Regions from separate parts of the Homo sapiens genome. Here region 1 is linked to region 2. The links come from fine-mapping of genetic effects on gene expression. Tissue or cell type: gastroesophageal junction. Region 2 holds a variant in brackets; the other region holds the start of a gene. All regions are shown on one strand. Distances are between the middles of the regions.

Region 1 (5,368 bases), 49 kb after region 2:
CAGTGGGTTACACATAAACAGCTTGTACCATCAAGCACAAGAGCTTGATCTTATTGTCCTTTACCACCCTCTGCCTTCAGAGAGCTGCACTTGACCAGCCCCAAATTTTATAGGCCCTTTACCTCTGTTTCCTAAATCCCAGCTCAGGATGGCCCCAGCATGGCAAAGGGAACTGTTGGTCATTGCTACACCATCATGGCACAGCCAACCTGGTAACCTCTGCCCCTGCCTGCCTCATTTCCAGTCTTTCCAAGTCACTGACCCTTCCCTACCTTCCTATAGGTGGCAGCTTTGGCCCTCTGTCGAGATTGTGGTTATTTCTGAATACCCACAGGGGTCATTGCACGTGTACAAGTGGAACAACACGTGTTTTAGGGACCCTGTCTCCTATTTTTTTAACCTATCTTCTCCAATTTTTCAGGTATAGATTTGAAAGTGCTGAACAACACATAGTTATAAAGTTTCCGGGGAGAAAAATCACAATGCTTCCTTTCAACTTCAACATCATGCTTTTCCATGTGGAACCTTAGAAATCATGTGACATGGTCCACATTCCACATGACTGGCACCCACTCCGTTACAGGCTCAGGGGTTAATGGCATCCCCTGAAAGCATCCCCAAAGCAGTACCTTGCTCACCTCCTGCCTGACCAGAAAGAAAAGCACAAGAGAATCATTTTCCAGGAACACACACACACACAGAATCTGTGAATGAAAATCTCAAAATCTGTCGGCAAACTAGAAATGTCAAAGTAAGGCATGGCTTTGTGTCTCCTGGGGAACATTCTGAATCACCCTGGGGGAAACACTGTACTTCTATTGCTGATTAATAGTCAATCAAGACCTATGGGATGGAAAAGGACACGTAAGAAATAACAGCAACTGGCACCCACAGATAGGTAAATTGGTTTTCAAGCCCAGTGCCAGGTTGAGAGGCAGAGGCAGGTCTGAAGAAGAAGCTGTCAATGTCCCTCTTTTCTGGGAAGGTGCCGAAGCCATGGGCTTGTTTTGAAGTCATTAGTCAGGAAGCACTATGGATGTGGATGCCTCTCCTGCACTCACCTGAACCTCCCTGAACCTTCCCCTCCTGGAAAGGAACTATTCTGGACACCTGGGGAAACACCAAATTCAGACGGAGGAGCCATCTCTACTCTGGCAAGAGCAGCAGGTGCAAGGATTGGAATTCAGACATCCACGTGTAAACAAAAGGGAGTGCTCCTGGCGGGGGGGTGGGGGGTAAGCCTTCAGTTCAATTCGATTTTGCCAAGGTCTGCCATGCACTGGCCCCTGAGCCTGGTGGGCCTGCTAGGTTTACAGGGGAACCAAGCTCGGCCCTGCCCTTAAGAAGCTCACACACCTGGAAGAAAGCAGGGGGCGCGGGGAGGGGAGGAAGTGTGGACGTGAGCGCGCGCGCGCGCGCGTGTGTGTGTGTGTGTGCACACCCGGCACCAGTGCTCCTGGCGCCCGGAACTCCATTCCCTCCCATGACAGCTCATTGACCAGGTCGCCTCGGGAGAGCGCCCTGCAACCCCCACCCTCCCTTTGGACCCCCGCGCTGGTCTGGAGCGCACCCAACCAGCGTAACCTTACACTTCAGACCCAACCCAGGTCTGCTCAGCCCCGGCTGCTCCCAGGGCCTGAGAGTGGAGCTACAGTAGGGATCGGCCTTCACCCGGTCCCGGGCGGCTCCGCGGGGAAGGCGCAGCCCAGGGCGTGTTCTTCCAGTCTTGGGCGGAGTCATCACCACAGTGGACAGAGACTCCAGCGCTACTTCCCGGCGTTGACACCTGCTCCTGGAGAGGGTCCTGGACCCGCGGGCTGTGGTGGGGGTAGGGACTGCTATAGGTTCAAGCGGCTTTTCAACCACAGAGGGCTCCTTGCATTCCCTATCGCCTACCAACGGGATCACAGCAAGACTGGGGCTGGGGCTGATACAACGCAATTTTCCTAGCCTCGCTTGTCCGGCAGCCTGCGGGTCTTAACTGCCAATAGTCAGGGCCGCCGCGCGGGCATCTCGCCTGACGCCTACAGTGGCCAAAAAAGCTCGTTTGCCCGCGCGTTCCCTCTTGTACACACACAGACATTCACATGCACACACACTCTGAGCCGGACTTGTGTGCGATCCCGAGAGCCCGCGAGCAACCAGCCCAGAGTCACACGCACATTTGGACACGTGCGCAGCGCGCCCCCATACCGCCAGCTAGCTGCACACATCCGCTCGTGCAGCCCTGCGCACACACGTGTGCCCCGGGGAAGAGCGCACGGCCGCAGACAGAAGGTCCCGAACGCAGGCAGGAGCTCACACGCAGGCCCCACGACTACCACGCATCTGCGGCCCCAGAGCCCCGCCGTGGCTGAGTTGATGCGCACCAGCCCCAGCGCACCCCGCGCCGCGCGGGGCACTCCCGGGCCTCATGGGCGACCCAAGTTTCCGGGGCGCCCGTACCTTGAATGTGCTGCTTGATGACATTCTCCAGGTGGTCCAGCCGCTCAATAATCTTCAGAGTGTCCCCTTTGTCTTCCTCCAGCTTCTTGTCGGGCGCCGGCTCCTGCCCCCGCACATACACGCTGGCGATGTAGTTGGTGACCCAGCCCACGTAGAGCAGGCAGATGATGTTAGTCATGCCGCTCAGGATCACGCAAGTGGACACCAAAGTTTTGGTCTTCCTGGTGCACACCATTCTGGGCTCCTTCCTCCATATAGAGCTCCCGGGGGCCCTTCCTTGTCGTGCGCCCCGAACTCCCCCGCGCTCGCACCCCGTAGCACGTCCGGAGCCGCTGGGCACCTCAGCACCTGAGTCCCGAGGTTCTCCAAAGCCCGGTCCGCTGCCGGTGTAGCCGCCGTGCCCAAGTTTGCAGCTCCTGCCGCTGGCCACCCGGAGAGACCTTGACAAAGGAAACCAGGTGGATTTTTTTCCAAATTAAAAATCCCTGAACCCTTCCTAGAGGGGTCACGGGTAGCCGGCAGCCGCGCGTCCAGATGTGTACGTCTGGGAAACTTTGCCACTGCCTGTGTCGGCGGCCACGCCGCTTCCCATCGCCAGCGCCGGCTGCCTTGGCGGTCCGACCGGCCCGCGCTGCTAGGAGAACAGCGGCAGCGGCAGCGGCGGCGGGGAGAGCCGCGAAGCAGAGCGGCCCGGCCCCCTCCGAGCGACAAGCGCTGCCACCAATCGCGCTCCGGCTCGGGAGAGGGGCCGGTGCTGAGCGGCAGCGGACCAACGGGGAGGGAGCGGGGGGCGGAGTCCAGCTCCCAGGCCCCACCTGCTGGCCGCCCCTGGCTCCCGCCCCCAGGGACGCGCCCGGGCCTCCACCCGCGCCTGCACAGGCTGCCCCAGACCTGAAGCTCCCGGAGAGGGCGCGCTGCCAGTCCCAGCCCTTAGGTCGGCAGCTTCCTCCGTTAGGGGAATTCCATCTCTTGCTCTTGGGCAGGAATCTCCTGGTTTTGTGGAGGGGGTGGGGGGTTCGCACGGGTCAGCTTCTTTCATCCGCCCGGGGCTTCTCGCATTGGTGCCACCAGTCGACTCCTGGAATCTTTTCTTGGTTGCCAGGACGCTGAGAAGCCAAGGAAGTGCCAGCCCCAGCGGCATCCACTCCTTCCTTGGCCTCACTTGGGCCTCCACCCTGCCCTCTGCCCTTCAGCCACCGGCCTCCTGAGTGTGTCCAGACCTGGCCCTAAACCTGGCTGAAAGGAGCCAACCCTCCGGCAACCTCCCAGAAGCAACATTGGTGACCTATTAGATGACTCTCTCGACCACTTCTTCCCCCCCCCCACCCCCCACCCCCCACCCCCACCGCCTGCCCCAATTTTTGCCCCTATCTAGGTTTTTCTTTAAGTCTGTACAGCTCCCAGGACATGGATGTGTCCTTTAAGCCCAGTTTTCATTTATGTGGAACCAGGGTCATCCAGTGCATAAAGAAACCCTGCAAGGAAGTGCCGCTGAGGGGAACTGAGGTCTGTGAACTGTAAAGCCCTTCTACATGTTGTTTATGATTGCTATCATAGAGGGCGGTGGGAGAGACCTGTGACTGAGCACAGGAGGAGGCCAGACGCAGACAGTGATACTGCTGTGTTTGTTCTTACTGCCAATGTTTACTCATATTATCCTCTTCTGCTGAACACCCCGTTCTCAGCACCTGAACGGAATTCCTTTAAACAAAGACTTTTTACAACATAGATTTCCTGCCTCTTCTCCATCTCTGAGTTGCTTTATTTTTTTGGCCTAAGCCAGGGAGGCAGCCTGCTGCATGCCCACTTTGTTGTGTGCCAGCCTTCCAACCAGCCACAGAAATACTCAGGGCAGCTCCATCCTGGGATATCTTCTGGATTCAAATGACTGGCCCCACAAGAGAGGGAGAGCACAAAACCAAAGAAAGGGCACTTTATGGCCCCATCAGCCAAGGGCCCTTCTACCAATGCTTTGTTTACAAAACCTCCCCAAAGATGCTATGAAAACAGATACCAACTAGGGACCCGGGAAGATTTCCCTTGATCCATAGCTGGAAGAGAGAACAGTGGGTGTGGGTTGGCGTGGGCTGGGGTATAGAAGGGGGAGAAGAATCGTGTGTATGGTATGTAGGAGATACATACATGAGAGGAGAGAATGTACACAATTTCTGAAAAAATCAAGGTAGAGAAATCTGCCTCCAGGAGGGAGTAAAACTTGTCTCTCCCTTTTTTCTCTTCCAGAGGTATAATCCAGCTCACAAATAAAGGATCTGAACTTTCTTCTGGTTGGACAGACTTACAAGCAATGCCCTTGAGTACAGGCTAAGGTGTAATCTTTCCTTCTGTTCTGCCCCCTCTCCCAGGAGGAGCCCTGGAAGTTCAGCCCTTCTTGGGATCTTCCTAAACCACCACAGGACTAGAAAGAGAAGGCAATACTCATTCTTTTCACATTCTTAATGGAAAAAAATTAAATCCCAAGTTTAAAAAAATGAGGGTCAAGAAGAAAACAAAGTGAATTGTGTGATCTTAAATTTTGTACAGCTGATCCTCTAAGATAATGTGTAACTGTAGAGGGGATGAATACAACAAAAGAAGAATGCTGAACAGGTTCTCCTCTCTGAAAAGTCACAGGTTTGAGTTGACCTGTTCAAAGAATTTTCTCTGGAGGTGCAGGCAGACTCCAGGGTTCTAATCCCAGATCCACCATGTATTAGTTATGAGAGCCTGGACACATTTCAAAAAGTCAGTAGGGCTCAATTTCTCCCATGTATCAAATGTAGGTAGACAATACCTTACTGAGGACAGGCTGTGAAAATTAACTGAGAGAATGTTCCAGAAAGGGCTTTAATTAGTGCAGGACACATAGTGAGTGGTTAGGATCATGTGAGTTTCCTTCCAGATATGGTCACTCCCTTTCCAGGCC
Region 2 (5,368 bases):
CATGGAGATCACAAAACAGGGCATGAGGTCTTTGGGGTAGCCATAGGAGAAAGGGAACTGAAACAGAGAGAGAGGCCAGTCCATGGAGACAGGAAAAGCTCAGGAAAGAGAAGAACTTTGGTTCGGGGACATTTATAAAGAGGGACAGAAGCAGAGCAGGCCACTCAGGAAGTGAGGGAGTGTGGCTTGGACTTTTCCTGGCTGGGAAAACACACAGAAAGAGCCTGTTTCCTCTGCAAGCAGAGACGTGAGGGAGCTCAGCCAGGCTGGGAGTGTCCAGAAGGCGGAGCCCCGGACTGGCTGGAAAAGAGAACTCCATCTCAGGAACCATGGTTTGCCCTGGAGAGCTTAGCACTGGGCTGAGCACACCGTGTGGGATTCAACGTGCTAAAGTGAGTCACCATGGGCCACCCCAAGAGCCTCCCAATTTGTCGCCTGCTTCCTTTCTTGCCCTCCACCCGCTCTGTTCTCCATGCCGTGGCCAGAACAACCTGATAGCACTGCAGACCTGTGTCTCCTCCCTTCTTAGACGCCCTGGCTGGGCTTGCACTGTGCATATCTGCTTCCCTCTCCTTACAGCTAGCCCACCAGCCCTCACATGATCTAGCCTCTGCGCACGACCCAAGCCTCATCCGGCCGTCCGGCCCCTGCCCTGCCCTTAACTGGCCTCCCTAGGTTTCTTGAACACACCATAACATACTTTCTTTTCCTCCTGGGGGACCCTGCCCTCTGCCTAGAAAGCTTTTTTCCACAATTCACCAAACCAGCTCTTCTTCCTTTCAGATCACAGTCTCAAAGCTCCCCCTGGCCACCCCAGCTCAGGAAGGATTTATTTCCCTACTTACACCTTGTTTCTCTCACACGCTCCATTTTTTGCCTTGACTGCACTTCTTGCAATGTGTACTGACCCATTTAATATCAGGCTTCAGCCCAAGTGTTGTGAAAAGGCAATGATCTCAGGTCTCCATTGCATCCCCAGCACGAGCAGAGTCCCTGGCACATTCAGGGCTCAGCACACTGTTGAACAATGGAATGAACAGGTAATTTACTTGCCTGTAAAGAGTTACTCTCCAAATTATCCCCACATCTTCCCTCTTACCAACCAGTTAAACCCATGCTATATTAAAGACATGAGGTATTAGTAACAGTTAACATCCACTGAGTGTTTTTCATGGGCCCCAAGTTTTCCTGGGTTGAGCACACTGTGTGTGATTCAACATGCTAAACTGAGTCACCATGGGCCACCCTAAGAACCTCCTAATTTGTTGCCTGCTTCCTTTCTTGCCTTCATTTAACCCTCACAGCAACCTAATGAGGTCAGTCTTATTCTTTCCATTTTACAGATGAAAAAAATCAAGGCTTAAGATTAACTTAGCAGTTTATCCAACAGCTCCTGGCTAGTCAGTGTCAGGACCAGGATTTCAATCCAGGCAGCCTGACCCTTGGGCTGTGTGTATAGCTACCTTCAGACACAAAAGGAAAAGGTCCCAAGGGCATGTCTTTGGAGAATCAACCCCTGACTTTGTGTGGTGGAAACAGAAAACCAATGAGTCTGCAATAGGTGTCTCAGCAGGCTGGGAAATGAGGTTATTTGGTGATAAATCTAACTCTTCAAAATTAGCTCTGCTCTCTGAGTCCGGGTGCCTGTGCTTCCAGAAGCCCCCCAAGGCTCTAGTCCTCTAATGACTAGGTCAGATCAAAGTCAGAGTTCCCAGTGAACACCAGCTTTCTGGTGGGACATGCCTCTTCCTGGGCAGTGAGGCCCACTGTGCAGATCAACCGCATGTCCAGGAGCCCTTGCAATGGGCTGAGCTGGCTTTGGCCACCTCTTGTCAATTAGCCATGTCCAGGCTAATTGACAAGAATATTTTGACAAAGGATGTTTCAATCCTATTTAAATAGACTTTCTCCACAAATCCCATAACACGTAATGAGGTTATTTTATCTAGAAAGATATCCAATGACCTGGAAAAAAAAATTGGTGTGTGTTAAAGTGACCCTATGTCTGCATTTCCACAAGCTTCTCTAAAACTTACTGACGACAGTATCTGCCTGGCTACAGACTGTGAAGGTGTTTATTCATTCCAGAGTCCCTTTCCTGTCCCTCTGCCCTGGGGAAACACAGTGAGCTGTATGCCCAGCAGTGTAGACCACAGACCCCACACTAACTGGGCATAGGAATTCCCTGGGAAGCACTTTACAAATACAGATTTCCAGGCTCCCCCACTGAAGAGCATGATTCAGCAGATCTGAGGTGTGGCACAGGACTCTGTATTTTCCTGGTTCTCCAGCTCTCCCTGTGCAAGCAGGCCTGTGCCGCAGGGCGTGGGCATCATCGAGTAGTGGTGTGGATGCTGTTGGCATGTAGTGTCTTGCCGGGATCCAGGCCTAGCCACTCCTTTCTGTGGGATCCTTGACCACGTAACCACTCGGCCTCAGTTTCTTTATCTAGAAGAGGGGTACACAAATACACGGCCTGCTTGCTCCTTGGGTGGCTTTCAGGGATCAAGGGAGGTGGTATGAGTAAAATAATAACAAGAATTAACATTTATCAACTGTCAGCACCAGATGAAGCACTTTGCCTGAATAACTTAGTCTTCATGAAAATTGTATGAGTGTGTTACTGTTG[C/T]TATTTCTGTTTTAAAGGTAAATAACCGAGACAGAGTTTAGGCAGCTAATCCAAAGACACCCAGCTTGGGATGTGAACTTGGGCATGAGTCAGGGCCCTGGCTCCGCTACAGTCGCTCCTGGCCAGTGCTGTGTCTGTGTGAGAAGCTGTCTTAGATTCAGCTTTCCTGCTATGTCCCTCTCTGACAGCATTGGGATGTGAAGTTCTACACAGAGCAATGGTGCAGGAGGACCCCTGAACATTCAACATGGCTGCCCGGTGCCCTTCTGAGGAAGACAAGGAACAGATGGCCCTCGCAACCCTCGCCTTCCTGCCAACTATTAGGATGCAGAAGCAGGCGCCAGCTTCTGCTCACAGGAAAGAAGAAAAACACAATGGCAGTAACAACTCCAACTGGGGCATGAGTTGCCATTTTGAATTGCCAAGGCTGGAGACCAAAAATATTGAGAAGTCTTAAAACAATGGCCCCTTAAATTTGTACATTTGACAAAGAGGAGAGGGTGCTACCATTTACTGAGCACCTACTCTGTGCAAAACTCTTTCAAGTGGTCACTTCTCTTAGTCCTCACAGTAGTCCCATGAAGGAGGACGTTATCTTAGCCCATTTTACAGATGAGAAACCTGGGTCTCAGAGATACTAATGAAAGTAACCCAGGGCCAGCAAGGAGTGGACACTGGGTCTGAATTCACATTGAACTGGTTCCAAAACCCTGCCTTTCTGAACTACAGCGCCCCTCCAGAGAGCATGTTCATGTTCATTATGGTGGGCGGCCTTGACTCATACTTGACATGGATGTCCCAGAGATTCCCTACACACAGCTTTCAATACTGAAGATGGAGCTCTCTGTCCCCGGGTGGGGCCGCAGCATCACAGTGCCTGTGGGAAGGCTGGGCAGACTGAAATAAAAGGGATTTCTGCCTGCTCCTTCTCTTACACTAAGGTACATGTGCCCACCTAAGTATCAGCCAAGCCAAGGAGAAAAGCCACAATTAACTGAGCACTTACTTGGTGCCAGGAACTTGCTCACAAACGATATTAAAATTTTACAGCAACCATGCCAGACTAGGTCTTATTTTCCTTATTTTACAGATGCAGAACCTGATGCCCAGCAAAGGGGAAAGGATAGCAGGAGCCTTGATCCACCCAGGAAGAGGTGCCAGCTGGATCAGCAAGAGGCTGGTGGAGAACAAGAAGCTGCTATGAACCAATCTTTAGAAAACAGCAGGATCTCCGAGGAGAGAAAGAATTTCTCTCCAGCCAAAAGCTTCATGAGATGGAAGGGGATATCCTATCTCCTATATTGTATCCTCATCATGGTCTCAATAAACCCACTTGGAAGATGCCCATGCATGAGCGTCGACGGTGACTTCCCGAGGCTGGACGGCGATCCTTCCCACTGCAGAAGGCGGGGTGCTGAGCACTGTGCTGGGGCTTTCTGTGCACCATCTTCATTTGGTGCATTTTGAGGGGTCATTCATTCTATCAACATCTCATTATAGAAGGCAGAGTTCAGAGAAATTAGGATGGCTGCCCAAGGTCACCTAACTACTCTGAGAAAGAGCTGACATTCAAATCTAGGCCCCTGAGCCTGAGCTTTCCACATGACACTGTAGCATCTTTCAACAATCAGAGGACAATCTAGGCAAGTCAATTATTGTAGGTATGTGGCTCCCCATGCCCCATGGGAGAGGAAGGGTACATACTGCCTCATAAGAAGTTCTATCAGTACATGAGTGATAGAGAGGTTACCATTCCCTGAGGTTGCCTATAGGACAACTGCACACTAGGTCAGACCCAAAAAACTGGAACTACACTTTATAGATGGCACTGGAGAAAGTAGATGGCTTCTGAAGGCTACAAATGAATCCCAGCCCTGCTCAGACCAGAAATCTGGTCAAATCTGCTCCCTAGACTGGGGGAGTAGAGAACCTGAGGGCTGGATAGGTACCATGGGTGAACCATCTCCCTGGTCTGGACTTAAAGGTCTGATTTTGATATCAAAACATAAGAACCTCCCTCAATTCTTAACTACATCCAAATTCTGGCTATGCCACATGATGTCCTATCTTCCAGGAAGAAGCATCACACCTGGCTTCTAGCTTGGGCTTTCATCCACTTAAAGGAATCCACAGCATCATGGCCATCATGACGTCACATGAGGTTTATTTAGGTTTGAGGCCTGTCTCCTATCATGAAAGTCCATCTACCAGCACCTACCAGATGGCTAAAAGGAAGCAAAAGACACTCTGGGTGCAGGCAGGAGCTGATGTCAAGGGGAATCCCTTCTGCAGGACAGCTAAGAGATCCACACAAAACAGATGGAGCCAATTTAATATCTCTCCCAGCAAAGGAGTCGTATTAGGAAAGCAAGGACAGAGCAGAAGCATTAGTATAAATTACTCTGAGCGTTCATAAAGGTTTGCTGCTCAACACTCCCCGGAGGCTAAAGAATTGTTTGCTCCAGCCTCTCAGACCCAAAGCATGCAAATTAATAGTCATGATTTATCAAGAGGTATTTTTCATTGGTGTTCTTGGACCAGGTTTCTTTAAGTATTTGGGTTCATCTATCTAGCATGTGCCTGGCTGAGTACTGCTACTATTATGCAAAATGCATCATAAATCCAACATTTAAGAGAGGTTTATTTAAGCCAGTCTAGAGCTTCCAGGGTCCAAGCTCATTACCATGAACACAACTAATTCCTGGCAGGGTATGGGGCAGTGGAAGCCAGTCCATTGCA

Direction of the effects. Positions count from the first base shown, and alleles are read on the strand shown. Sizes are in standard deviations (SD) of each study's normalised expression.
With allele C in place of T in region 2, the expression in gastroesophageal junction of the gene that starts at base 3,092 in region 1 is higher (moderate effect, 0.51 SD a copy in GTEx).

What was found.
Region 1: it holds the start of GALNT18, and the variant in region 2 is fine-mapped to the expression of GALNT18 in gastroesophageal junction (GTEx, PIP above 0.99). The same link has a PIP of 0.9 or more in aorta and esophagus muscle.

The regions. Positions count from the first base shown.
Region 1 is chr11:11,618,914-11,624,281 of GRCh38, forward strand. GALNT18 (polypeptide N-acetylgalactosaminyltransferase 18) reads right to left here and starts at 3,092. Exons shown (of 11, transcript NM_198516.3): 1 at 2,446-3,092. The coding sequence starts at 2,680. RefSeq lists enhancers at 973-1,942, 1,395-1,534, 1,605-1,834, 2,575-2,624, 2,835-2,914 and 1 more and silencers at 2,115-2,184, 2,205-2,284, 3,035-3,394.
Region 2 is chr11:11,569,806-11,575,173 of GRCh38, forward strand. The region is part of intron 1 of GALNT18 (polypeptide N-acetylgalactosaminyltransferase 18); the gene reads right to left. GALNT18-AS1 (GALNT18 antisense RNA 1) reads left to right here and starts at 160. Exons shown (of 2, transcript XR_007062595.1): 1 at 160-392; 2 at 3,720-3,972. RefSeq lists an enhancer at 499-998. The variant C/T (reference allele first, on the strand shown) is at 2,630.